Regions from separate parts of the Homo sapiens genome. Here region 2 is linked to region 1. The links come from fine-mapping of genetic effects on plasma protein levels. Region 1 holds a variant in brackets. A gene starts in the other region. All regions are shown on their reverse strands.

What was found. PIP is the chance, under the fine-mapping model, that this variant and not a neighbour inherited with it causes the effect. The UK Biobank Pharma Proteomics Project read protein levels with antibody pairs (Olink). The fine-mapping took linkage between variants from a reference panel, not from the people measured, so its PIPs are less certain.
Region 2: IGFBP3 starts here. The variant in region 1 is fine-mapped to the plasma level of the IGFBP3 protein (UK Biobank, PIP above 0.99).

Annotation. Positions count from the first base shown.
Region 1 is chr16:1,076,502-1,088,111 of GRCh38, reverse strand. It overlaps SSTR5 (somatostatin receptor 5), which reads right to left. Exons shown (of 2, transcript NM_001172560.3): 2 at 6,658-9,270. The coding sequence starts at 9,243. The coding sequence ends at 8,149. It overlaps SSTR5-AS1 (SSTR5 antisense RNA 1), which reads left to right and starts at 9,381. Exons shown (of 4, transcript NR_027242.1): 1 at 9,381-9,654; 2 at 10,400-10,488. RefSeq lists enhancers at 4,329-5,181, 8,963-9,627. The variant G/T (reference allele first, on the strand shown) is at 9,102.
Region 2 is chr7:45,910,392-45,921,499 of GRCh38, reverse strand. It overlaps IGFBP3 (insulin like growth factor binding protein 3), which reads left to right and starts at 228. Exons shown (of 5, transcript NM_000598.5): 1 at 228-762; 2 at 4,061-4,287; 3 at 4,833-4,952; 4 at 6,555-6,695; 5 at 7,666-9,255. The coding sequence starts at 360. The coding sequence ends at 6,680. RefSeq lists an enhancer at 1-425.

The DNA of each region.
Region 1 (11,610 bases):
AAACGGGCACCCCTCAGCAGTCACTCCCCGCTCCCCATCCACCCCCTGGCAGCCACTGTTCCTCTCTGTGTCTGTGAACGGCCCCGTTCTGGGCATTTCATGGAAATGGAGTCACACAAGTAATATTCTGTCCTGTGGATGGACCACATTTGTTTGTCCATTGTTTATTGATGGACACCTGGGTTGTTTCTACCTTTTGGCTATTATGGGTTATAGATAATGCTACTATGAACATTTCTGTAAACACTCCATTTTTTTTTTTTTTTTTTGACAAGGTCTTTTTCTGTCACCCAGGCTGATGTGCGGTGACACAGTCACTCACTGCAGCTTTGAACTCCTGGGCTCAAGCCGTCCTCCCACCCCAGCCTCTCAAGTCGCTGGGACTGCAGGCACATGCCACCACGCTCAACTAATTTAAAAATTTTTTTCTTGTAGAGATGGGGTTTCGCCATGTTGCCCAAGCTGGTCTTGAACTCCTGGGCTCAACTGATCCTCCAGCCTCGGCCTCCCAAAGTGCTGGGATTGTAGGCATGAGCCACCACGCTGGCCCAAATTCCATTTTTTAAATTTTTGTAAAAGCAGTGTTGAAGAGAACCTGAAAGAATGGATAGGATTCTAAACAATTTTAGCTCAGCTCAGTGGTGGGTGGAGACTTTCCCTATTAGATATCATAACACAGTGGCCACCAAGCAGACACCAGACTGCCAGAGCTCCTCGCCCCCAAAGAACAAGAGGGCGCCCCATATACCAGGAAATATACCAGGAAGGCAGAGGCAGCCACAAGGAGGGGTATTTTTCATTTGAAATTCATGTCGCCTGTAATCCCAGCACTTTGGGAAACCGAGGCGGGCGGATCACCTGAGGTCGGGAGTTCAAGACCAGCCTGACCAACATGGAGAAACCCCGTCTCTACTAAAATTACAAAATTAGCCGGGTGTGGTGGCACATGCCTGTAATCCCAGCTACTCGGGAGGCTGAGGCAGGTAAATTGCTTGAACCTGCGAGGCAGAGGTTGCGGCGAGCCGAGATCGCACCATTGCACTCCAGCCTAGGCAAGAAGAGCAAAACTCTGTCTCAAAAAAAAAAGAAAAAAAAATTCATGTCATGTGATAATACAAATTTCAGTTGAATGAAATAATTTTCAGCCATATAATCTTTAGAAACATGTGGGACCAGCTGGGCATAGTGGCTCACACCTGTAATCCCAGCACTTTGGGAGACTGAGGCAGGTGCATCATCTGAGATCAGGAGATTGAGACCAGCCTGGCCAACATAGTGAAACCCCGTCTCTACTAAAAACACACAAATTAGCTGGGTGTGGTGGGGGGCGCCTGTAATCTCAGCTACTGGGGAGGCTGAGGCAGGAGAATTGCCTGAACACGGGAGGCAGAGGTTGCAGTGAGCTGAGATTGCGCCACTGCATTCCAGCCTAGGCGACAGAGCGATACTCTGCCCCTCACCCCTCCACACACACAAAACCGCCACCAAAAGCCATGTGGGATTGTGGGATGTACGCCCATGTTCACAGCAGCATTACTCACTGTAGCCAGAAGGTAGCTGCTGTGGTCACAATGTGTCCCCAGAATTCCTATGCTGAAGCTGATGGTCACTGTGATGGTATTAAGAGGTGGGGTAGGCCGGGTGCAGTGACTCACGCCTGTAGTCCCAGCATTTTCGGAGGCCGAGGTGGGCAGATCACCTGAGGTCAGGAGTTCGAGACCAGCCTGGCCAACATGGCGAAACCCTGTCTCTACCAAAAATACAAAAATTAGCTGGGTGAGGCGGTGGGTGCCTGTAATCCCAGCTACTCAGGAGGCTGAGGCAGAAGAATCACTTGAACCCAGGAGGCACAGGTTGCAGTGAGCCAAGATTGCACCATTGCACTCCAGCCTGGGCAACAAGCGAGATCCTGCCACACACACACACACACAACCACCACCAACAAAACCCATGTGGGATTGTGAGATGTACACCCATGTTCACAGCAGCGTTACTCACTGTAGCCATAAGGTAGGTGCTGTGGTCGGAATGTGCCCCCAGAATTCCTATGCTGAAGCTGATGGTCACTGTGATGGTATTAAGGGGTGGGGTATTCTATGACAGCAGCAGGAGTGGACTCAGACTGTGGACACCGCCCAGGTGTCTGCTGATGATGAATGGAAAAACCAAATGTGGTCCACGCATGCACGGGGACAGTGGCCAACCTCAGACAGGGAGGAAATTCTGGCACGTGCTCCGTGGATGAGCCTCAAAGGCAGTGCGCCGAGTGAAATAATCAGTCACAAAAGGACAAATGCTGTCTGATTCGAATTGCGCGAGGCACCTAGAGGACTCAAATTCATAGAGACAGAAAGTAGAAGGGCAGGTGCCGGGGCTGGGGGTGGGAATAGGGAGTCGTTTAATGGGGACAGAGTTTCAGTTTGTGGTTTTGAGAAGAGTTCTGGAGATAAATGGGGGTGATGGTTGCACCACAGTGTAAGTGTCCTTAATGCCATAGGACCATCCACAAAAATGGTTATGGTGGTAAAAATCTGTCATACGTATTTTACCAAAATTTTAAAAAATACGTGGGGACATTTGGCTAATCTGTGAATGGGGAAAAACCTCCCACTGATAAAAAGCAGAATAATTTTCCAAGTAGATACATGATAGGTTGGACTTCATGAAAGTAAAACATTCTACTTTGTGTCAATCCTGAAACTAAAACATGGGACCCTAGGAAGGGCTGTCCCATAGACAGCAAAGGACGGCCTTCCTGCCCTGCAGGGGTCTTGCACAGATGGAGGAGGAAAACTTGAGAGGAAATAGAGAATTTGGAAGATACAGGAAGGAATGAAAAATCATCGTGGATTCACACCATCATGAGTGCCAGTGTCTAGATATTCTCGTGTGGCTTACAGGCATCTCCAAGCTGCCTGGTCACTACCATCGTCCGTGTCCCTCAGGAAACACATGGGCAGGGCCTGGCAGGGGATCACAGTAGGCAGACCCAGTGTACAGAGAGCTGGGCAAAGCCATAGCCAGGTGGACAGGAACAGCAGCCAGACCTCCCTCTCCTGTGAACCTCTCCCCACTGCACTGGCAGCCATGGAATCCTTGCCTCGCTCTAGGGAACTGCCCCCACCATGATTCCTGGAGGCAGAGTTAGGAGTGAGAGGACATGTCTGAGGGCACAGGCATGGCCAGCACTGCCTTCCTGAAGCTCCAAGCCCCCATGGAGGGAGGCACCCATGGGCAGGACCTGGGCACCAGAGTGCGGTGAGAGGCAGGAGCTCCGACTGGGACAAAGGCAGATCCTGGGCATCCCCTCACTCTCCGGCCACCCTCTCTGGGGCGATGAACATCAGAACAGGGACTCAGGTGGAGGGGCCAGTGTCTTCTGTTCCACAGCCCCATCTCACCCATCCCACTGCTCTACATGAGTTGCCGACCACTATAGACAAAACCAAGAGCTTCCAGCTGCGTTCGGCCACTGGAGAGCCCAGCAGGCCCCGGGAGGGAGAACTGGGGAGTCCAGCAGGCCCTGGGAGGGAGAACTGGGGAGTCCAGCAGGCCCTGGCTGTCTCTGCTCCACAGGTAGCCTCTCCTCTCCCAGCCGTCTCATCTCCGGGTTCTGAGGACCCTGCCCCAAACCTTGAACCTCTAGGCTGATAAAGCCAAGGTGTCAGCCAGGGCACTGTACTCCTCACTTCACAAAGGGCCTTTTTTTCCTTTGAGACGGGGTCTTGCTGCAGTGCAGTGGCATGATCAGAGCTCACTGAAGCCTCCGCCTCCCAGGCTCAAGCAGTCCTCCTGTCTCAGCCTCCCCAGTATGTGAGACGACAGGCATGCACCAGCACCACTGAATAATTTTTGTAGATTGTGTAGAGACAGGGTCTTACTATGTTGCCCAGGCTGGCCTCAAACCCCCGAGCTCAAGCTCTCTGCCTGCCTCAGCCTCAGCAGTTGCTGGGATTATAGGTATGAACCATTGCACCTGGCACCTGGTCCTGACGGTATCCTTGTGAGCCCTCCTCAAACCACACTACGTGATCACACCCGTTTCCCAGGACGGGGACAGAGCCCTGGGAAGCGTGGGTTGAGGAGTGGGAACCACAGAAGGCTCGTGAGCAGCAGAGGGACATGAACAGATTTGTGTTTGGGATAAAATGGGGCTGGAAGTGGAGGTGGGGTTGGGAGTAAGGAGGGAGACGTAGCCAGAGGCGGTGGCTGCTGTGGCCGAGCCAGGGTGGGGACAGAAGAGAATGAACCCAGGAGGTTGACTCCACCTAACAGCCTGCCAGGGGCCCTGGGCGGCTCCTGCCACCCACAGGAGTGCAGAGCCCGAGGTGGCTCCAGGCCTCCACGGGGCAGCGTGGCCAGCGCCCGCCTCTGCTGCACCCACAGCGGTTGCTTGTGCTGCCAAGACCCGGCCTTGGGAGGGCAGAGGGGCCTGTCCTAGGGGCAGTCTTCCCCCAGACTGCCTCCCTGAGACCCCACAGCTGGTCCCACTCCCCGTCCCCACCCCACCCACTCTCTTGGGGTCTCGTCTGGTGGGAGGAAACGGCTTCCCCGGGGCCCTGGGCCAGTGGCTGCTTCTGGGGGCCCCATGGCTGCCGGTCGCCTCTGCCCCCTTCCCTCCCCAGGAGGCCTTCCAGGTCCTCCACAGACCCCCACATCCCGCCCCAGGGCACCCCTGCTGATGGGGCTGGGTTGGGATGAGGGTCGGCCCGCTGGGGTCTGTCAGCATCCACGACGGCCCGGCCGCAGTTTCCCTCACTGTGGAGCTAACGACACCTCCTCCTGCCTGTGGGGGCTGCTTCTCCTTGGCCCCGTCTTCCCCACACCCACTCTGCCAGGCAAACAGATCCCTCCCGCCCTCCTCGTCCTGCCCGGGCCTGTTTCCTGAGCAAGGTCACTGGAGTCGCTGGAGCCCAGAGCCAATAAAACCCAGTGATGCGCGCGGGCCGGGAAGCCACCCCGCCCAGGATGTTTGCTCCGCGCCGCACCCCCCACCCCCACCGGGTTCTCCGGTGGCCTGCAAGGGGTCTCGGCTCCGCGGCCCCTGCCACCCACAGGCCCCCACTGCCCCGGGAGGTGAGGATGTAGGGGTCCAGGGCCCATGCTCCTTCCAGACACTCACCTGACCCCACCCGGCCTTTCATGCTGGTGCCCTGGGGGCATCCAGGCCTTGTCCTCTTCCCCGTGGCTCTGCCCAGCCTGGTCCATGGGCTGCCTGGGACCTCCCCAGACATCTTCAGCCCTCTCAGCCCACTGAGGCCATCAGACCCCGGGGCCTTGTCCTCCCACGTGCTCCAAGCAGGAACCAGCCAGGTGCCACTGCCCCCTTCTCCAGGCCTGGACAGGGGCTGCCCCTGCCTCGTGAGCACCCCTGGGGCCCCGGCCCCGGGCCAGGCCGCTGCGTGTTCTGGATGACTCACAGCTTCCGCACACTCCCTGTGTGTGCCTCTTCCCGCCTCTCGTCCAGTCTCCTCTCTCAAGCTGGAGTGAGCGCAGCTTCGTCCTTCCCTGGGGCAGCATGGGGGCAGAACTTGAGGGGCCTGGATCTGCTCCTCTCTCTGAATTGACCCCCACAGCTAACCCCCCTGTGCCCCTTTGCCTCTGAGCCCTCCCATAGGCTGTTCCCTCTGCCTGGAATGCTCTTCCGGTTCAACCTTGATCCCACGACCCAGCCCCATGCTGGTGCCCTGCAGGTGTGTTTGTCCGATGGAGACACGTGTTCAGGGCTCAGCCAGCCCAGGGGGTCAAGGGCAGTAAGTCCTAGGCCCAGCTGTGGGGCTGCCGTCATGAGCCCACCGTCCCCAGAAGGTCAGCGTGACAGCGTCCTGGGGGTCAAGGGAAGAAGAGGCTGTGCCGGCAGGTCTGGTTTGTGGGGAGGGTGTGCACCTGATGGGGACGAGGCTATGACCAAAGGCACAGATGTGGGCTGTGGGTGGCCGGGACCAGACTGGGGAGCTCGGCAGGGCCATGAGGCTGGGGCCTGGGACGGACAGGGACCGGGGTCCTGGGGGCTTCAGGCTGGACAAGGTGGGGAGCAGGGTGGCCCGAGGCTTGTGGCCGGGTCGAATGGGCTGGGGGTCAAGGGCGTCTTCACCCGAGAGTGAGGGCACTGGCGCCTCTGTCTGCCCCTCGTGGCTGCCGGCCCTGCAGGGAGAGCGCCCGGTGTCAAATCAATTGGAGAAATTGATCTTGGCAGGGATTTCCGAGCCATCTGCTCGGTCCCCAAAGCCTTCTGAGAGGGTGAACATGGCACCCAAATCCCTGGGGAGGCAGGTCGAGGGGGGTGCTGCGGTGTGAACGGGCCTCGGTTTCCCCCAGTGCACCCTGGATGCACCCCTCTTTGGTGACTCAAGAGGCAGAGATTTGTGGACCCCCTGCAGAAGCCCACCCTGCCCCGCCCAGAGCTGTCAAGAAGCTGTGAGGGGCAGCTCCAGCCTAAGACCCCAGGCAGCTTCCATCATTTTTCACCCTGTTCACGAATTCCACGCCTCCCGCTTCCTGCTGGGCATTTGGCCGCCCCCGTCCCGGCCTTGTCTGGCTCAGCGGGGCTGGGGCCGGGGGCGGGCCCTGTGTCGGGCCTCGGGGGAGCCCAGGCTCCGCTCACTCTGCGCTGGCTGCACTCGGCTCCAGGGACAATATTTGCTCGGGGAAAGAATCAAACATTTATCCTCGCATTTATTCAGGGGAGCAGTTGTCAAACACGCGTGTCCTCACTGCTTGGATGTTTCCCAGGCCTGGCCTCAGCCTGGGCCTTTCTCCTGCCAGGATTTGTGCCCACTCAGCCGCTCCCTGTGCCCTCCAGGAGGTTGAGGTCCTGCTCTGGGCAGACGGCGGGAGCACGGGTCGGGGCCAGTGCTGGGCAGGGCAGAGGGGTCCCTGAGGCCGAGTGATGCCGCACCCTGGTCCTTCTCCTTCCAGCCTCAGAGCAAGGCCAAGGTGCCCCAGAGACCCCAGCAAGGCTCTCTGGGCCCACGTTCTGGGCCTGGGGCGCCAGGAAAAGCTGGTGTTTGGGGTGGGGGAGGTAGGACAATTCTAGGTGGGAGGCGGCGGGATTCCCAGGGCCTGCCATTTGCGTCACCCGCGCGGCCGCTGCCTCTCAGCAGTGCTGTCTGCTGTGGCCTGGGGAGCAGCTCCCCGCTGCGCCTGGATGACCGTCCTCTGCTCCTGTCCCCGTTCCCTCTCCCGGGCCAGAGCCCCTGCCCCAAAGCAGAAGAGACGGCCGCAGGTTCCCTGTCCTCTCCAAGCCCTGACCCTCAGGTCCTCCTGCAGCAGGAGCACCTCTCCCTAGTGCCCTCAGGCACCCCACACTGGACCCCTCCAGACAGAGCCAATCTCAGCACGGCACAGCCATCTGCACCCCCAGCAGCCTGGAGGGCTGCAGCCTTCACCCCAACCTCAGCCCCCAGCTCTCCTCTGCACCAGCCGCCTCCCCACCTCGCCCCTGGCTAGGCCAGCGCCCAAGCCCCCACACTCCCCTCTCTGAGACAGCAACTGCCGCCCGCAGCCTCCCATGGGGGGTGTCGGGCAGCAGGGTGGGGCCCCCAGGACAGGCGTGACCCTGGCTGACCAGGGGCTGCCCAGCCACACTCCCCTTACACCTGCATCCCCAGAGTCCACACAGTGCAGGGCAAGCGAGGGGCTGGGGCCCTGGCCAGGGACTCCGGGGACCTGAGTCAAGCGCTTTCGGGTGTCTTTAACTTAGCAGAGCAGCCTTGGACGGGGACCCGGTGGCTCGGAGCTGACATGCAGCTGGTGGGCCGGGCAGGTCAGCTCCGCCGTCAGGAAGACCCTCTCGCCTGGCCGGCCTTCTGGAAAAGTCGCTCCCCAGAGGGAAGGCCGGCATGGGCTGGGGCCAGATGGAGGGTGAGGCGGCCCTGAGCACTTGCACGGCATGGCGGAGCCCCCCACCGGTCTGGCCACCTCCCCTACCTCCCGGGAGCCCCCGCTGTGTGGCAGACGGTTAGAGGGGATGGTCGGTCACGGTGGGGAACCTACTGCCCTGTGTCTACCCCAGCCTGGCTTCAGCCAGCTCTGTCCTCACACCACCGCCGGGGAGCATCCTGACTGGCAGGTCATGGGTGGGGGTCACCGCAGTGCAACCTCCGCTCCTGGGGGTGACACGGGGCCGCCCACCCCCCGCCTGCACTCTCACAGCTTGCTGGTCTGCATAAGCCCGTTGGCTGCGGCGCGGTGCGCGGGTGGCGTGGCCTCCTGCTGCTGCCGGATCCTGTCTGGACGCGGCTCCGTGGCGTCAGCGTCCTTGGCACCAGAGCCCTTGCGGAGGCACAGAACCTTCTGGAAGCTCTGGCGGAAGTTGTCAGAGAGGAAGCCGTAGAGGACGGGGTTGGCACAGCTGTTGGCGTAGGAGAGGATGACCACGAAGAAGTAGAGGCCGGCGGAGGCGGGCTCCTGGGGCAGCGCCACGGCCAGGTTGACGATGTTGACGGTGAAGAAGGGCAGCCAACATCCCGCAAACACCAGCACCACCACCAACACCATGCGCGTCACCTTCCGCTCCGAGCGCCGCCGCACGCAGCCCACGCGCACGCCCGCCGCCCTCACCTTCACCACGATGAGCAGGTAGCACAGGCAGATGACCAGCAGCGGCGCGAAGAAGCCCAGCACGGCCGTGTAGATGATGAAGACGGCGCCCCACAGCCCCACGGGCTCCGGCCAGCTGGCGTTGCAGGTACCGCCCTCCTGCACGTCCGCGAACACCAGGAGCGGCAGCGACATGCACAGAGACAGGACCCAGGCCGCGGCGCTCGCCAGCTTGGCCACACGCGGGCGGCGCCAGCGGGCCGAGCTCAGCGGGTGCACCACTGCCAGGTAGCGGTCCACGCTCATGACTGTCAGGCAGAAGACACTGGTGAACTGGTTGACGCCGTCCAGCGTCATGACCAGGCGGCACAGGACGGGGCCGAAGGGCCAGAAGGACGCGGCGTTCTGCGTGGCCAGGAAAGGCAGCCCCAGCATGTACAGGACGTCGGCCACTGCCAGGTTGAGAATGTAGATGTTGGTGACGGTCTTCATCTTGGCGAAGCGCAGCACCACGTAGATGACCAGCGTGTTCCCGCCCAGCCCGGCCGCACACACCAGCA[G/T]GTACAGCACGGGCACCAGCACCGCCCGGGCCCCTGCCGAGGGCGCCGGCCCCACCAGCGTCCTGTTGTCACCGCCTCCAGAGGCAGCCCCCGGGGAGGAGGCGTTCCAGCTGGGCGTGGAGGCTGGGAACAGGGGCTCCATGGCGGCAGCCCTGGGGTGCGTCAGGCTCTGCAAGAGAAGAAGGGAGGACGCCAGGGTGGTGAGTCCCTGAACCAGCACATGCAGGCATTCCTTCCTCCTGGGCCCCAGCCCCGCCTGCCAGGAGGCGCGGGATCACCGGGTAAACACGATTAGTCATGTTTAGCTTGGCCGGGAATCACGTTAAGCAAATTGTTTGGAAAATAAGCCAGGAGAGGAAGGAGCGGCGGGCAGGTGGCCCCGGGAGCCCAGACGGACGGCTGCTGTCGATATGGCGACAGCTGCCCTGTGGCCGCCCCTGCACCCAGATGGCGCCTGGCCTGGCCGCAGCATCCTGGAGTCTGAGGCCAGCACCTGCGTCTCCCTGAAGCCCCTCAGAGCCTGCCCTGCAGTGCTGCTGCCCTCGTCTACCAGGTAAGGAGCCGAGGCCCAGCGGGCGGCCCCTCCCGGGACACACAGGGAGAGGTGGCAGTGGAGAGAGATGGGGCCGGTGGTCGGCCCCCTGTCCGCCTGGGATGAATGGCACCTGGCTAGGACGACCTGAGAAGTGGCTGGACGTGGTGTCGCCACCGCAGCCTCGAGGGACTTTCACCGGGGTGCCCGCTGCCCGTTGGCCCCGAACCTCTCTCCAGGCCAGCGCAGGGACCGTCACCCCCACAGCAATGACAGACATCTGTAAACCCAGGCGGGGGCACAGCACAGGGCCAGAGAGACACCACCCTCCCCACGGGGCGGCTGCAGAGAAGCAAACACACAAACCACACAGAGTGGTCACACGGAGCCCCAGGAGTCACACAGGGCGAAGGAGGGGGGACTGCGGGCGGGGGCTGCACACCCTGCAGCCCGGAGGAGAAGCCGCGGTGGGGGGTGTGGGCGGGTCAGAGGCATAGCGTATGGGGGCTGCAGCCACCTGACACTGCCCAGTCCCATCGGAGCTTTGAGCCCCCTCCCAGGCCCTGGAACCCCCCACTGTGGCCCAGAGAGAGAACAGGGGAGACTTGGGGGAGGGGAGGGAGGGGTGTCCATGGAGAAGGGTGGGCTGGGAATGGTGACGTCTGTGGGTCCAAGGCCATGGGCACGTGTGTACCTCGTATATTGTTTTTGTATTTTTCTGCATGTTTGAAATCATTCATAAAAATGATACTCCGGCTGGGTGCAGTGGCTCAAGCCTGTCATCCCAGCACTGTGGGAGGCCGAGGCGGGTGGATCACCTGAGGACAGGAGTTCAAGACCAGCCTGGGCAACATGGTGAGACCCCCGTCTCTACAAAAAATACAAAAATTAGCCAAGTGTGGTGGCGGGCGCCTGTAGTCCCAGCCACTGAGGAGGCTGAGTCAGGAGGATCATTTGAGCCCAGGAGGTTGAGGCTGCAGTGAGCTGTGATTACACCACTGCACGCCAGCCTGGGTGACTGAGCAAGACCCTGTCTCAAAAAGAAGATCAATGCCTCCCCTGACGAGTGGGGCGGAGGAAGTCCGGATGTTTGGGTTGACCCTGGAGCTGTGTGACTCTGGGGGTGGCCAGCAGAGAATCAAAGTGTCCCCTAGGATCCAGACCAGGGACAAGCCCCTCCCTGGGGGACCTCGGCCTGAGCAGGGGTGGAGCCGGCTGTGGTGACCTCAGCATGTGCCGTCTGGAGCCCTGGGGCTGCTCAGCTGACCGGCCCTGACCCTGGAGGCACCTCAGAGCACAGGACGACCCCAGCAGCTGCCAGGAAAGGCCACAGTCCTGGCTGGGGGCTGTGGGGCTGGGCCAAGGCCACTGAAATCTGGTAGACAAGGAAAGGAGAGCTGGGGACGGGGGAGCCCAGAACACAAGGCTGACAGCACAAAGAGAAAGCCCTCTGTCCCCAACAAACCTAGAAATCAACATCCCCAAGCTCGCATGGCCCAAACACACTAAGAAATACGACTCAGAAAATCAACAGGGCCAGTGGACCCATGGATCCATCTCAGGGAGATAAAAATAACGAGCAAACAGGTACGCTTAGGCTATGTTTAAATATGTGCAGGATCCACAGAGACAGCATGGATAAAATGTTAGGAAATACATTTGGCTTCTGTCTAAGGAGTAAAATGAACAGGCATCTATTTTTAAAAATTACAAATCCTGGATGTAAAAAATACAATCATTTAAGTGGAAAAAAACACTACAAAAGTGGTCAGAACCAACTCCAGTGTGGACAGCACTGAAGAGAGAATTGGTGAATGGGAAGAGGGTTGAAAGATTCACTGGAGCAGGGTGCTGGCACAAGGTCCAGAGAGGGCTCTGTGGGGTGGGCAGGGGGAGAGCATGGCTGGGCTCCCCCAGAACTGGCGACAGGATCCCTTCTGGGAGCGCACCTGTCCCAAGCAGCATAAAGGAATGAAA
Region 2 (11,108 bases), not on the chromosome of region 1:
AGGTGACCCGGGCTCCGGGCGTGCGCACGAGGAGCAGGTGCCCGGGCGAGTCTCGAGCTGCACGCCCCCGAGCTCGGCCCCGGCTGCTCAGGGCGAAGCACGGGCCCCCGCAGCCGTGCCTGCGCCGACCCGCCCCCCTCCCAACCCCCACTCCTGGGCGCGCCGTTCCGGGGCGTGTCCTGGGCCACCCCGGCTTCTATATAGCGGCCGGCGCGCCCGGGCCGCCCAGATGCGAGCACTGCGGCTGGGCGCTGAGGATCAGCCGCTTCCTGCCTGGATTCCACAGCTTCGCGCCGTGTACTGTCGCCCCATCCCTGCGCGCCCAGCCTGCCAAGCAGCGTGCCCCGGTTGCAGGCGTCATGCAGCGGGCGCGACCCACGCTCTGGGCCGCTGCGCTGACTCTGCTGGTGCTGCTCCGCGGGCCGCCGGTGGCGCGGGCTGGCGCGAGCTCGGCGGGCTTGGGTCCCGTGGTGCGCTGCGAGCCGTGCGACGCGCGTGCACTGGCCCAGTGCGCGCCTCCGCCCGCCGTGTGCGCGGAGCTGGTGCGCGAGCCGGGCTGCGGCTGCTGCCTGACGTGCGCACTGAGCGAGGGCCAGCCGTGCGGCATCTACACCGAGCGCTGTGGCTCCGGCCTTCGCTGCCAGCCGTCGCCCGACGAGGCGCGACCGCTGCAGGCGCTGCTGGACGGCCGCGGGCTCTGCGTCAACGCTAGTGCCGTCAGCCGCCTGCGCGCCTACCTGCTGCCAGCGCCGCCAGCTCCAGGTGAGCCGCCCGCGCCAGGTGCGCTGCGTGCAGCACCCGGCGCACTGGCGCCGAAGGGCCTGGGGGTTGCTGGGTGCCGCTGCGGGAGACTCCGCTTTTCTTCTCACTGGAGATAATATGTGGGGAAACTGAAGGCGCTCCGGGAAAGGTGAAGGCGGTCGCCGGAGGGACCCTCCCCAGCCGGCCCTCTACTTGCTCGATTCTCTAAGTGCAGAGTACTTGTAAATTGCAAAGCGCTTTCAGTGAAAATGGGTTAAAGGTTTCCGGAGCTGAGGGGAGCGGTACCGATGTTTAGCTGTTGGAAAGATCCTGGACACAGGAGATTCTCCTCGCCCCGCACGGGGGTGCACACGGACTGCAATCCCAGGGATGCTTGGGGATGGGGGGGATATAGGCGGATTTGGACCAAGGAAGGTGGGCAGGCACGTTGTAGGAAATAGTACCTCTCTTTTAAAATACTGACTTTGCACAGCCTTTTGGTTTGCAAAGCAATGTCTAGTCCCGGTATGTCCAAAAACAAGTAAAGTGGATTCGGGTTTTGATATCTTCTGCGGTTGGAAAACCTGAAGCTGAAAAAGAAGTAACTTCTTAAGGTTACCCAGCGGCCACAACAGAGTGTAGGTTTGAACTCCGCGTGCCACTTTCAGTACCATACCATTCTTACAACTCGGGCCACCCCTGCACCTGCGCCGACCTCAAACAAACTTCCAGGTGCGTGGTGGGTGCGGGCAATGTGGACTAAGTCAATTTCAATGACACGGAAGGGAATTGGAATCAGTCCTAGGGCTGTCTCCCTTCTTAATCTGAAATGGGGGGGGGAATGAGATGTTGTTAAGGGGAGCCCCAGAAGAGGAAAAATGCAAACATTTGGCAGAGTTACCCTCTTGGCTTAGCCACTATCAGTATCAGGCAGACAGCGACTCTGGTAAGGGCATCACATTGTTCCCTTAAAAAAAGGAGCGGGGGTTGTTTAAATGGATTTGGCAGCTGTTCTTTCAAGCATTCTTAGCCAGCCTCACCTAGTTATATGAGAAATAAAGTTCCTGCCTTGCACAGCTGAAGGCTGGGAGAATTCTCCCCATCCTAATTCCCCCAACTCCCCAACGATCACGTTGGACAGATGTCACTGGGCAGGCCCCCATCTAGGGCTAGCAGGATGAACAGTCCCTTTATAATTTATGTAGCTGTAGAGTTCCACGCCCGGGTGAAGTTATTTTCTGGCTCGGCAAGGCTGGCTCTGTTCACCCCTGAGAAATGCTGGATTCATGGAAAGGCAAGATGCCTGAAACATACACTGGCTCTGGTCAGCTGTTAAAGCTGCTGGAGGCATTTGTCTCTCGGGGCAAAGTTATGTCATTTGCCAAGTGTCGTACATTATTGTGCATTTTGGGGTATTCAAAAAGTGATCTTAGAAATACTGATACACATCGTCATTCTTGGGCTTTAGCAATCATCATGATTACCACCTTAGTAGCACTGTAGTATAGGTTGATGTGAGTTATAAGATTATAAAAAGATCTAAGTGACTTCTAGAATCTATTTGACAAAAAAAGGTAAATTTTCGACAGTCAAAAGTCACAATTATCTGTTGCTTAAATAGAACTGTTTTGTCTTCATGCCCTAGTCTGCAGCCCAGGCATTAAGAAGAAACCAAGGAAATTTAAGAAATTACTCAAGGTTCTTAGAAAAGAAGTATAAATACGTTTATTTACATGTTCTTAGAGTATTTACATTCTTAGTATCTCTTTTATCTCAGTATTTCCTTGAAAAAGAAAGCAAGCTAAGATTAAAAGAAATTGAAACCAAATCCTCGCAGGTAGGGACCTCCTCTGTGAGGCTCTGTGCTGGACCCTGGGAATGTGTGCTTCCCAAGGTATGAAACCCCTTGGGGAACTTTACAGCAGGACCTCAGTGAGCTGTTTGGCAGGTGAGGAAACTAAGACCCAGAGAGGAGAGGGACTTTCCTAAGGCCCTGGTGAGTGACCTGCCAGTAGCCACTTCCAGGGGAGAGCAGAGCATCTGCAGCCAAATCATTGCAGCCCCAGGTAGCTTTCTAGAATAGACTGTGGACCAGATGGGCCACCTGAGCTCCCTGCTAGGGTTACACATTATAGCCCTGTTTGTTGTAGTAGAGAAATTTCATGACTCTCAATTGTGGACTTAAGCCGATGCCTCCAGACCTTGGCATGGTCCACAGGCCCTGGGAGCATGGGCTCTGAATGTAGCCTTTGATCCCCATAGCGGTCTTACAGCCCCTCCAAGTTCATTCTGAAGAAGGAATGGAGTGAGAATCCTGGCTGCAGATCCAGTCTTGAATTTAGTCATATACTTAAAATTCCAATTCAACTGTTAACATTCCAGCATCCATTTTAAGCATCAGACTTTCTTCATTTAGCACTTTTTATTATAAAAGGGAGATCTGCTGGAGGGGGATTTCTCCTACCCCACCCCCACCCAGGGAAGGAAAAGCTCTTTGGCACTTAGAAGTCTGAGCCGTGAGTGGGACTTTGGCATTGTCTGCATCCATGTGCTGCTGTGTTCACCCGGGGTGAAAAGGACTCACTTAGGCAGGCACCAGCAAGATGCACAGGGTCTGTGTAGACCTTGAGTTTTAGAGATGTAACGGGGACCTAGAAAACAAGCCACCAACATGCTTGCATGATTCTGAGCCCCTGAGGCAAAACGCTTTGCAGGTAATAATTCAGTTTTCCCATCTGAGCTGGACACCAAGCTCTTATAAGCGTGTTTACCTGGTAGCATTGAGGACGGTACTGGTCAACCTTGGAATTCCCATAAGGGCTTGTTACAACTCAGACTGCTGCCGCCACTCCAGCGTTTCCGGAGTGGAGAATGTGCATTTCTTCCAAGTCCCCGGGCTGCCGCTGCTCCCGCGGGTGGGAGGACCACACTTGGAGTTGACTGCAAAATTTCTGAGCCGGCGCTGCAGCAGCCTCCCGTGGCTCAGGTCTGCCCCCTGCCGGTGGAAGATGAAGCATACTGCCTTCACCTACTGAGGGGCACTGAAGCGTTTGTCTGCCTTCTTTAGTTGCAGCTACTTAGGAAGAGCACCTGTCAGATTGACTTTCAAACAGATAACTTCTTGAGGTAGAGCAACCACCATGTAGTGAGTAGTATGATGGAATAATACTTCATCGAGGTATTTTAAAAAAAAAAACTCACTTGGATTGCCAACTAATATTGTCATTTACATGTGACCTGGTTGCAACGTTAAGATTTTTAAAAGACTGTGATAGATATTGATGACTCTCATGTGTTTGTCTCTCTTGGGCGTTTTAAGGAAATGCTAGTGAGTCGGAGGAAGACCGCAGCGCCGGCAGTGTGGAGAGCCCGTCCGTCTCCAGCACGCACCGGGTGTCTGATCCCAAGTTCCACCCCCTCCATTCAAAGATAATCATCATCAAGAAAGGGCATGCTAAAGACAGCCAGCGCTACAAAGTTGACTACGAGTCTCAGAGCACAGATACCCAGAACTTCTCCTCCGAGTCCAAGCGGGAGACAGAATATGTGAGAGCTTTTCCTCTTGTTAAAGGAGGAGGGCAAGACCTGCCAAGCCTGGGTACTCAGAGCCTCTTGAGGGCAATTCTTACTCAACAAACCCCAGCGCCTGGCTGATGGGTGGGCAACCCCTAGCCCCTCTGTGCCCTACCTCTCTCCTCTCCTTACATAAAGAATATTGACCCTTTTGGAGAATCTTATGAGGATCAAGCTGAAATAACACTCTTAAAAGCATATGGGATGTCATAAAGACCTCTGCAGATAATGAAAAATATTCTCATAAAGATAGTTTTATTTACTTCATCCTCTATGCTTGTTGACCTGCTATTGGTTCCATACCAGCTTCTGTGCCTTACTCTGGGAAGAGCAAAAAGGAGACAGGGAGTGATGGTTAGCTTATTCGGGGGACTTTCGTGCTACATCAGACATAAGGTATCTGAGGAGCAAATTACAGGTCCCACTTTTGGTAGTTGTGCAGCATCGTAAGATTTTTAAAGCACACATTCTAGAGTAAAAACTGTGACTCTGTTGCTCTGGTCCTTCCTGATCCCCAGGGTCCCTGCCGTAGAGAAATGGAAGACACACTGAATCACCTGAAGTTCCTCAATGTGCTGAGTCCCAGGGGTGTACACATTCCCAACTGTGACAAGAAGGGATTTTATAAGAAAAAGCAGGTGAGTGAGGTCCTCAGTGTGTTTTCTTCCTCTTCTGTTGACACAGAGGAGAAACCCATCTCACCAGCCCCCAGGCTCTTCTGGCCATAGCTCTAACTCTGAGCCTGTGCAGCACCAGTGCCCAGGACTTGGTGCCAGTCTCAGGAGGTCAGACCAAGGGCTGCTTTGACTTGTTGCTCTGAGTGCTGCTATATTGGCCATAATCCTCAACCCTAGTGCCTTTCCACCACCCGCTTCCCACTCCTGTCCTTTCAATGGTTCACCCACAGGGCGGACAAGATGCTGCCCAGTGGCACCCTTTATAAACTGCAAGTGGACATGTTAACACATTTGTTAATGCTGCGTCAGGGAGTGACATTTCAAACAACTATTATAGTCAGTTTCCAAGAAGTGTGACATGAGGTCATACCACAAAAAGCTTACCCTGAAATCCCACAATCGTCCCCTTTCCTACTGATGCCTTCCCGATAGTGAGCAGGTTGCAATATTAAGATTTTGAAAAGGCTGTTGCTAGATGTTGGTGACTCGTGTGTCTCTGTCTCCCTTGGGCTTTTCAAGGAAATGCTAGTGAGTGGGGGGATGACTGCAGCATGGCCAGCTTGGAGAGCCCAGCCATCCCCAGCACATACCAGGTGTCTGTCTTGGCGTGGAGGGGATGGAACTTGAAATCAGACACTCGGTCCATGCTGGGGATGGCCAGTCTCTCCAAACTGGCCATGTGGTCTTCCTCCGACTCACTGGCATTTCCCTAGAAAGTCCAAGTGAGAAGAAGGCATGAGAGTCATCAACATCAAACAACAGTCTTTTCAAAATCTTTATATTGCAACATAGTCCCATTCCTGGAAAAGGAATGGAGTGAGAATCCTGGCTACACATCAGCCCCAAATGTAGTCATATGCCTAAAATCCCAATTAACCTGAAAATGATCAAACAAATTTAAGATATAGTAATATTAAGCTGTAATAAATATGCTTCTATAGGCTTTGTGTTATGTGATGGCACTATTTCAATTGGCTTTCTAATTGGACAATTGATACTATGCTATCTACAGAATTGGCCTTTGGAGACCTAAGTGAGCCACAGTGGCCTCAGGGTGACCATATACTAGGATTCATAGTAGTGGCCACAGTCAGAAAGCCTAAGCTTTCCTCCATTGCCATTGCTCGTTTATACCCACGTTTTCTGTCAAAGTCATATTCATTCAACAAAGTCATACTGAGAAGGTGTCATGTGAGGCTGGATGTGGGCTCCAAAGTCATAGCTGTGACATTCGCAGGCAGCGGGGATGTTCTCAGTCCCACATTTGGCAGAGAAGTCAGTCAAGAGGTTCTACAAGGGCTGGTGTCCACCTTATACTCCTAGAAACACAAAACTGCCCCCACCCCCGCTTTCTTGGAGCAGGAAGTTACACCCACACGCATGCACAGGCGCACACTCAGCGGGCCTAGGCACGCATGGCTCTTGTGTTGCCTTAGCTGAAATTTCTGTTGTGCTTTCTCAGCATAGCAGAGTCACGCTGGCAAACCATCATGCGCCCTGGCCACCGACCTGACACCAGACCCAGGAGCATTCACTTCTCTGTCTTCTGTTTCTCTCCCACAGTGTCGCCCTTCCAAAGGCAGGAAGCGGGGCTTCTGCTGGTGTGTGGATAAGTATGGGCAGCCTCTCCCAGGCTACACCACCAAGGGGAAGGAGGACGTGCACTGCTACAGCATGCAGAGCAAGTAGACGCCTGCCGCAAGGGTGAGTACTCAGGAGGGGCAGCCTGGGGCTCCAGGGCCTCACTGTCCTTGGACCAGCCTCAGGGGCTGGGCGTGGCCACTGGCCCTTCCCCAGGCTTACAGACCCAGGAGCTGCAGCTCAGGGCCAGAAAGAGCAAAGCAAATAGGACAGAGCCCTCAGAAGGGTGCAGGGAGAGGGAGACCCCATCAACCCAACCAAACAAGTGTGGGGAAGGAGGCCGGCCAGTGCACCTCAGGGACACTCTGCTTTATCTCAGATACCTCACAGCACCTAAGCTATCATTCATCCACACACAAAGTGAAGATTTTCAAAGTTAGGCTTTACCCGTGAGGTCTGGAGGTCCATTTATCTTCACAGAGAAACCGTTTTAATCCGCAAGAACCTGCTAAAGATACATGTTTCTAAATTAAAGATGTGAATGTGAGACAGCTGAAATAGCTCAGTTGGGAGAGCATCAGTTTGAAGATGCAGCTTTTTTTTTCTGTAAAATATATAATGAATATTCTGTTAGTCTGTGGCTAATATAATTTTAATAAAGTTAATTTAAATCTGATAGAAAAATGAAATTTTAAACGATAATTTTAGAGAATGCTATTATATCCAGTCTTCTTTTTTCTTTTAATAAATGAGGGAACTATTGGGGGAAAGGAATAAATACATTTTCTTTCATTTTATTAAGACAAATTTAGTAAGCAGAAGAAATTTGCATGTTTAGTTATAAGGGTTTCTTTTTTCCTTACAAGTTGGAAAAAATAATTCTAATTTAAGGGTAACTCTTTGACAATGAACACTGTGAGCAGCATCTGGTACTCGTTGCTTTGTTTGAAAACATGAGTTGAGACCCCAGCCCTGCACTTGCAGGCCTAGTGCCATTAGCCTGCAGGCTGTGCTGGATATCTCAGGGCAAGAGTCGAGCCCTTTTGATTTTGGGGGGATTATTTCAATATATTTCTTTTTCTTTTTGTTTTAGTTAATGTGGAGCTCAAATATGCCTTATTTTGCACAAAAGACTGCCAAGGACATGACCAGCAGCTGGCTACAGCCTCGATTTATATTTCTGTTTGTGGTGAACTGATTTTTTTTAAACCAAAGTTTAGAAAGAGGTTTTTGAAATGCCTATGGTTTCTTTGAATGGTAAACTTGAGCATCTTTTCACTTTCCAGTAGTCAGCAAAGAGCAGTTTGAATTTTCTTGTCGCTTCCTATCAAAATATTCAGAGACTCGAGCACAGCACCCAGACTTCATGCGCCCGTGGAATGCTCACCACATGTTGGTCGAAGCGGCCGACCACTGACTTTGTGACTTAGGCGGCTGTGTTGCCTATGTAGAGAACACGCTTCACCCCCACTCCCCGTACAGTGCGCACAGGCTTTATCGAGAATAGGAAAACCTTTAAACCCCGGTCATCCGGACATCCCAACGCATGCTCCTGGAGCTCACAGCCTTCTGTGGTGTCATTTCTGAAACAAGGGCGTGGATCCCTCAACCAAGAAGAATGTTTATGTCTTCAAGTGACCTGTACTGCTTGGGGACTATTGGAGAAAATAAGGTGGAGTCCTACTTGTTTAAAAAATATGTATCTAAGAATGTTCTAGGGCACTCTGGGAACCTATAAAGGCAGGTATTTCGGGCCCTCCTCTTCAGGAATCTTCCTGAAGACATGGCCCAGTCGAAGGCCCAGGATGGCTTTTGCTGCGGCCCCGTGGGGTAGGAGGGACAGAGAGACAGGGAGAGTCAGCCTCCACATTCAGAGGCATCACAAGTAATGGCACAATTCTTCGGATGACTGCAGAAAATAGTGTTTTGTAGTTCAACAACTCAAGACGAAGCTTATTTCTGAGGATAAGCTCTTTAAAGGCAAAGCTTTATTTTCATCTCTCATCTTTTGTCCTCCTTAGCACAATGTAAAAAAGAATAGTAATATCAGAACAGGAAGGAGGAATGGCTTGCTGGGGAGCCCATCCAGGACACTGGGAGCACATAGAGATTCACCCATGTTTGTTGAACTTAGAGTCATTCTCATGCTTTTCTTTATAATTCACACATATATGCAGAGAAGATATGTTCTTGTTAACATTGTATACAACATAGCCCCAAATATAGTAAGATCTATACTAGATAATCCTAGATGAAATGTTAGAGATGCTATATGATACAACTGTGGCCATGACTGAGGAAAGGAGCTCACGCCCAGAGACTGGGCTGCTCTCCCGGAGGCCAAACCCAAGAAGGTCTGGCAAAGTCAGGCTCAGGGAGACTCTGCCCTGCTGCAGACCTCGGTGTGGACACACGCTGCATAGAGCTCTCCTTGAAAACAGAGGGGTCTCAAGACATTCTGCCTACCTATTAGCTTTTCTTTATTTTTTTAACTTTTTGGGGGGAAAAGTATTTTTGAGAAGTTTGTCTTGCAATGTATTTATAAATAGTAAATAAAGTTTTTACCATTAAAAAAATATCTTTCCCTTTGTTATTGACCATCTCTGGGCTTTGTATCACTAATTATTTTATTTTATTATATAATAATTATTTTATTATAATAAAATCCTGAAAGGGGAAAATATTTTAGCTGTAGTGGAAAACTTCATAACCACAAATGTTTCCCTGCTTTCCCTTTTAGCAAAAGAACCCAAGTCAGTTTCCATGGCTTTGTGGGAAGCCTATGGAGGCATTGGGTCATATCTGCAAGATGGTCCAATTCTAGGAGGTTGTGTTGTTGGGACAGTCTGTGGCCCAGGTTTGATCAGGTCAGCAATGTGCACCTATGTGACTGGTCCTTGCCTTTTTTGGGTTGTGTCCTGTATTGTCCCATCTAACACTAGCAGCCATCCACAGACAAGCAGGGAAGGACCAGAACAGACACTCAGCAATTCAGTCTCGTGTCCTTTACCGCTTTGTCCCCTTCCCATCTCCAATCAGAGAGTGGCCCTTCTCTGCTCCAAGCAGAAGGGGTTCTGGGATCTAAGCCCCCTCATCTGCAGCCTTGGAAGAATTGTTACTTGTCAAAGCCACTTTAGACAAAACACTGAGCCTGTGGCTTCAGAGCATCCAAGGATAAACTGCAGTCGAAGAGTTACCTCCTGTCGAGTTACCTCCTGTCTAGCGCCATGTCTGATTTGTTGATGAAACATCTAAAATGATACCCTTATCACGTGTTGTATGTGATGAGCAGCAAGCCGGTTCTGTAAGTGTTCAGAGGACTGGTATTGTGGTGTGTGGTCTCAGGCTGATCACATGAGAAACCAGGACAAATGAGAAAGCAGGCCCCTTGGGGGTGCTGTGACTGCAAGGCTGTGAGGATGGAGGGAGACAGTGAGCAGAAGGAGCCCATTGCAGGGAGCAGGCACCAAGCGTCACGGAGAGTTGTGCGGCAGAATCCTGGAGCACCTGGGGAGCGAGGCCAAGTGTCTGGAAATCCAGGACCGGAACGTGGCAACCTCTTGGGAGCTGCTGAAGAGCTATGAGCTACAAAATAATGCTTGCCTTCTAAGCCCACTGGGTTTGTTTTCCTGGGAGCCACCAACTCATGTGCCCTTTCTTGTCCTCATTTCTTAACCTCTAACTTCTGCTGCTTCCCACACTTCATGATGATTAATTCTATGTGTCAACTTGACTGGGCCATGGGGTGCCCAGGTACAGCATCTGTGAGGGTGATACTGTGAGCGTAGTATCTGTGAAGGTGTTTCCAGATAAGATTAGCATTTAAATCAGTGGACTCAGTAAAATAGATTGCCCTCCCCAATGTGGGCAGGCATCCATCGATCCATTAAGGTTCTGAATAGAACAAAAGGCAGAGGAAAGAAGGGTTTGTGCCTTTTTTCTGTCTGCGTGGGCAGAATTGCACCACCAGCTTTCCTGGTTCTCCAGCTTGCAGATTACAGATGGTGAGACTTAGCCTCCATACTTAGCCAATTTTTTGTAATAAGTCTTTTTTGGTGGGTGATTAGAGATAAGTAGGTAGATAGACTAGATAGATGATAGATTGATAGATTAGATAGATAGGTAGATTAGACAGAGATAGATACATAGATGATAGATAGATAGATAGATAGATAGATAGATAGATAGATAGATAGATAGACAGACAGATAGATATAACCTGTTAGTTCTGTTTCTCTGGGAAACCCTGACACAATACCTATGATCAACTATTCCCTCTAAATGCTCTCCTGCCACTTCCAGTAAATACCTTAAAATTGCATACTCTCATTCTCCTCTGGACCCTCCAGTTCTTCTACCTCCCTGCCTTGGTTCTGATCCTCTGCCATCTTCCTCAGGCAACTTCTGCTCCCTGGGGCTTTTGCTTCCACTAACCCCTAAGGTCACATGTACCCAAGCAACCTGCACGCAGACACACACAGAAATGAACAAGTAAGGGTGGTCTCCTCCATGGGAGTCAAGGTGATGCAGGTGCTA